Regions from separate parts of the Homo sapiens genome. Here region 1 is linked to region 2. The links come from fine-mapping of genetic effects on gene expression. Tissue or cell type: prefrontal cortex. Region 2 holds a variant in brackets; the other region holds the start of a gene. All regions are shown on one strand. Distances are from middle to middle.

Region 1 (2,686 bases), 220 kb after region 2:
TGATTTTTATATCCAATTGATTTTATAATATTTTAATTGGGGATTTATATAATACAAATTTTATCTCCAAGTAAAATAAAGTTGAGAAAAACATACCGATTCATCTTCATCACTGATTGTTCTGTCTGAATAGTCTTCCTTTTCTGAATCTTCTGACATCTTTTCCAGTGTTTGACTTGAGATTTCTTGTAATATACGGGTAGGCTGTAAAACAATTTCTAAGGAAATTATATGACAGCTTTTCTTTTCAAGCTGTAGGTGTTTACTACATTAAATGAGTACTCAAAAATATATTCAATTGTATTTAACAGTCACAACAGTCTTCTCTAAAAACTAATTAGAATACAACTAATAAAACCTTCAATTTCAAAGAGTTAAAGGAATTTTCCATGACTATACGAGACAACAACCACAATAAGACAAATCAAGCAAATCATTTAATTAAAAGGAATTTCCAGAGTATACAGCCAAATCATTCACATTTTATATTTACAATTAAATACTACACAGCAAGTTCAGAATGATCCTGAGGCATTAAAAGATAATGAATTTAAAAATTATAGTCACTTACTGAAATGTAGCAATATAATTTTAAGTTTTCTCCTTGATTTTCACTTGACCAAAAGTTCAAGTGACAAGACTTTACATTTTGATTATTATTCTGTAGATACTGTCTGTTCTAATATTCATTTATATTATTCTTATTCTTAGAAATCTAAATAGCTACCAGAAGGTTGTATTGGTAATGACCATTACCATTCTATGCAAGTATCTTCCCATGTGGGTAATATCAAGACCAGGGAATAATCGAAATTTCTTGTCAAGTTCCCATCGTTCTTGAGAGACCAAAGGACTCGACAATTTCAAATCTATTAGTTTACGCCCCTCTCTACAGGAAGCGTGTTTTGGAGCGTGGACTACATATAAGTTAAGTCCAAGCTCTATGGCAAATCACTGCCAATGCCACGGAACCGACTGTCTCATAGATGACACCTTCAGTCCTAAGAAACTGAAGTTTCTGCCTGGGCATCACAACTCCACATTTGGAAAATCCGACTGGCCTAAATTCCATTCCTTACAGGTGCACACAGGGCGCACGAAGTGCTGACCTGCTGCGGATACAGCTCTGGTCTCAGGAAACGGCCCTTATCCACCGGCGCTCCGCGGGTGTCTTCCACCACTGCGGAGGAGGGGCAGATGCGGGCGCGTCCACGCTTAGCCGCGTCCCGACAGTACCAAGGCGTTTTTGGCGGGAAGCACGATGAGGCCACAACTCCGGGCGGCCGAGTTCCTTCCCGCACTCACTCCTGGACACCTTGGTGTGGGGAGGCGCTCATTTTCCGGGGCGCGCTCGCTTCCCGCAGGGGGCGCCCCGCCTTACTTCTGCATACCTCACCGTCCTGTCGGGGCCGGCACCTCGCTCCCACGCGAGTCCTCTGGCCAGGCCAGTCGTCGCTTCCGTGCGGGGAGAATATCTCGGGATCTCGCGATCTCGCGGAGAACCCGGTATCCAGCCGCTAGAAGTAACGCCACTGCTGGAGATCCGCAGCCCCAGCCACACTCCCAACTCTCGTCATCAGGCAACGGGTCCGCCCTCGCGAGACTTCGGACAGCCTTCGGAGATCACCTAGCAACCAGCTCGGAGGAAAGGAGCCTGCGTAGGTTTTGGCTCCAGGAAGAGGGATCCCAGAGGATGCCGGGAACTCGGGGTGGGCCGCAGGGCGGTCAGAGAGGCTCTCAGAGAGGCTTTGGGGTCTGTCGGGAGAATTTAGGAGTGGGGAAGACCGGGCAGCTATTTATTCCCAGTGGTCTGCACTTCGGCTGTTGCCTCAGAGGAGGCAGTAGAGCATGCTGGTTAGGACTGTGCTTTGGAGCCCACCTGACTTTTAACAGTGTGACATTGAACAAATTAATTACCTGGACTTCATGGGTACAATACTTGTAACTACTACTTGGAGATGTTAGAATATTAAAAAGTACGTTGGTCTTGATTTTTTACAGACTGAGTTCCATTCTACACAATTGTGCGATTAATTCGCTTATTCGATTCTGGAAAATGAGGCTTTTCTCCTTAAATACTAAATGGAGAGTCATAGATGAACTAGGGTGAATTCTCAAAATTATCAGCTCAGAGATTCTTTATAGCAATCGTCAGCTAGCATATTTAACACTGTTTTCCTGATGACTGCAAATCACTATATGTAGTCTCATTTAGTTAACAGACGTTATTCATGAACATCCCATATTGATTTTTTCCCTCATCTTTAGCTCTACAGGGTAAGGTAATCTATTTGGAAAAGTTTTCCAAGTACAGCTGAAAAAAAGTCTAGATTTTGATGATATAAGAATGTAAATAAACACTTTTCACAAAGCGTTATATGTCATGAGATTCGTGATATTGTAGAAATGGAGATAATAAATGGTAGCAAGTTTGAAAGTAGAATAAAGGGCAAAGCACTATGGCTTAAGCATGGAAATGGGTTAACATAATCTCTTTGTATTTTGTAAGTATCTGAAAATAGGTGTTTTTGAGGTCAGCAGTTTAAAAGTATGAACCTTCCAGATTAGACCTTGGCCAGAGAATATTAATAGAGTATATCTTAGATCAACCTCTTGAAAAGTAGCTCTTATAGTTGAAGCTTGTTTTATGCCATACATAAATCACTAAAGGTGACATGCACAGAGA
Region 2 (2,686 bases):
CTGCAGAAAGCTTTCTCTTCTCAGTCCAAACCTTTGCCAGGGAGAGGCTCAACCTGGGGAGGCGAAGCCAACTGACTGGTCTTTTCTGCCTCATTGGCTGTATTACTGCAGAGCCACTGGCCTCCAGGGCTGCTTTTAGCTGAATGTAGTGACCTCACTAAAGCTCAGACTGGCTGTGAAGTCCACTGGATGCTAGCTCTTTGCTTCTGGTATTTGAGAGAAAATGCTTAGGTTTGGATTTATGTCCCCTCTGTGGGCTGGCCAGGCAGATGGTCATGCGTCTGTGAATCTGTCCGAATGAAATGAGGCCAGACCTAGAGAAAGTCTTAGAGACAAGACTGTAGGGAGCGACTATTTCATTAAGCCCGCAAGAGCCCACAGCACCGCTCCTATACTCTGTTCTCTGTGTCCCTGTGTCTCATGTGTTTTACTGGTGTGTCAAGGGTTTGGGAAGGACGTTTAAACATTTCAGGGGCTGGCTTATTCTTTAACTTCGTGCACCAGTCCCTGTGATCCTGAACTTTGATGCGGAGTGTCAGAGGACTAACCAGGTTCAAGAAGAAAATGAAGTTCTGCGTCAGAAGGTTTGTTCTGAACAGGCTTGCTCCTGAGGAAGTACTTCTGCTTTTTGTGTGTGAAATTAGGTAGTGGCAGTGGAACACTATATTAATCAGGTTTCCACTGCCACTACCTAATTTCTCAGATGGAAATGAGTCACCAGAAAGTCAGTATTGGGGATTTGGAGAGTAACAGTCTCTGAAAACCAGAGGCGAGATTCATATTTTAAGTCAGATATGTAGCATGAACAATATAGTAACAGTAATTAACTTTTAAGGAGAAAAAGACTATATGCATCCATGCCACCTTATAACTAACCTGTTTTCATGTGTCTGTTTTGTCTTTCCACGTATAGCTATATATGTGTGTATATATATATACACATATATATGTAAACTATATGTATATATATAAACTATATATACACACACACACATATATATAGTTTATAACCCATATATAATTTAGTTGTTCCTACTCAGCTATATGCTTCTCTAGTTTGATAAAACAATAGAGCCAGGGGACCCACATTTGCCTGTACATGTTGCCTGAGGAACATTTCTCTTTCCTGAAATTAAGATCTCCTTAGGTGATATTGTTAGGAAAAGGAAGATTATAGGCTGTTTAGGTTATGGGGTTTAAGATTCTTGGGATTTGGGGTGTGTGTATATGTAATTTTCTTCAGGCAAAAGGTTAAAAACGCTGTAGTTCATTAACAG[GTT/T]TTTTTTTTTTTTCCATTCCAGAGTCAGGCTTTGAGAGTTCTAAAGCCTGATTTTGTAGATTCTAAAAAGCAAAACAGGTTGGGTGGAGCTATTTTTCTCAGTGAATCTAGGAGGAAGCAAGTCAAATGATTAAAAAGAAAATGGGTTTTGGATTTCTAATGGTTTTTGGTTTTCTCACCTCATTGTTGTCCAGTGACAGCAGTCACTTTTCCCAGTCTGCAGTGAGCAGAGTGAGATGGGCCCCTTGACGCTGAGGCGAGTGGCACTCAGACCAGTGGGCTTGGATGCGATGTGTCTAGAAATCTTCCTCCGCAGAGGGAAGGTTAGGTGAGATCATTGGCTAACTCAGTCCCACCCCTGTATAGCTTTTTGCATTGCAAGCTGAAATCCACCGACTGAAGAAAGAGGAGCAACAGCCAGAAGAGGAAGAGGCCTTGGTCCAACACAAATTGCCTCCTTATGTCTCCAACATGGACCGCCTGGGGGACTCGGAACTGTGAGTGTGTGTGACGGCCCTTTCCTTTTCTTTGCCCTCTGTGCTCTCAGCCCCACAGTTCCCTCTGATCTTGCCTTGCCTGCAGTCCTCTGTGCCTGCTGAAGGAGAATTGCGGAAGAGCCTCCTGGCACACACTGCTCTTGCTTGAGAGCTTTATTTTTATTTTTAGAGATGGAGTCTCGCTCTGTCGCCCAGGCTAGAGTGCCGTGGCACAATCTTGGCTCAAAGCAACTTCTGCCTCCTGGGTTCAAGAGACTCTCCTGCCTCAGCCTCCCAAGTAGCTGGGATTACAAGTGCATGCCACCATGCCTGGCTAATTTTTTTTGTATTTTTAGTAGAGATGGGATTTCATCGTATTGGCCAGGCTAGTCCCAACTCCTGACATCAAGTGATCCACCTGCCTTGGCCTCCCAAAGTGCTGGGATTACAGGCGTGAGCCACCGTGTCCAGCCTTGCTTCAGAGCTTTATGAGTAAGGTCCCCATGGCCTCAGAAGTCCTCTAGGAGTTCTGAGCCTCCGAGCCTGTGGCTCTGCCTAGAGGTGGGGAACTGCACAGCTCTGCCAGCTCTACATCCAGATATGTGTAGTCAGGATAAATAAAAACGCAACCACTGTGGTAAAGTCTTGGGAAGGTTTTGTGCATTGGAAGGAGCATCTCATGTATGGAAAGATTGGTAACCACAGGTTGGATGCATTCCTCAGTAGAAGCATGCACCTCTCTGACGGTTTAAAGAGGAAGGCAGATTAGAGAGAGGTATTTGACCTTCAGAAACAGCCAGTTAAAGCAGAAGCCCCAGCTGGTGATAATAATAGTAGTGGTTGAAGAAACAGAGGTACACACAGGTGAGGAAGACAGTGATTGGTGAGTCACGATGCAAACCCAGGCAGCCGGATTCCAGACCTCCACATA

Which allele goes with the higher level. Alleles are on the strand shown, and positions count from the first base shown. SD is a standard deviation of normalised expression in the study named.
In carriers of allele T in region 2, the expression in prefrontal cortex of the gene that starts at base 1,585 in region 1 tends to be higher than with GTT alone (moderate effect, 0.67 SD a copy in BrainSeq).

Evidence for each region. PIP is the estimated chance that this variant, and not a neighbour inherited with it, causes the effect.
Region 1: it holds the start of AGBL3, and the variant in region 2 is fine-mapped to the expression of AGBL3 in prefrontal cortex (BrainSeq, PIP 0.95).

What each region holds. Positions count from the first base shown.
Region 1 is chr7:134,985,407-134,988,092 of GRCh38, reverse strand. AGBL3 (AGBL carboxypeptidase 3) reads right to left here and starts at 1,585. Exons shown (of 17, transcript NM_178563.4): 1 at 1,392-1,585; 2 at 97-218. The coding sequence starts at 159. RefSeq lists enhancers at 894-1,153, 1,234-1,373, 1,384-1,683.
Region 2 is chr7:135,205,018-135,207,703 of GRCh38, reverse strand. It overlaps WDR91 (WD repeat domain 91), which reads left to right. Exons shown (of 15, transcript NM_014149.4): 4 at 502-584; 5 at 1,646-1,776. It overlaps MIR6509 (microRNA 6509), which reads left to right and starts at 626; the gene lies at 626-710. RefSeq lists a silencer at 635-794. The variant GTT/T (reference allele first, on the strand shown) is at 1,278.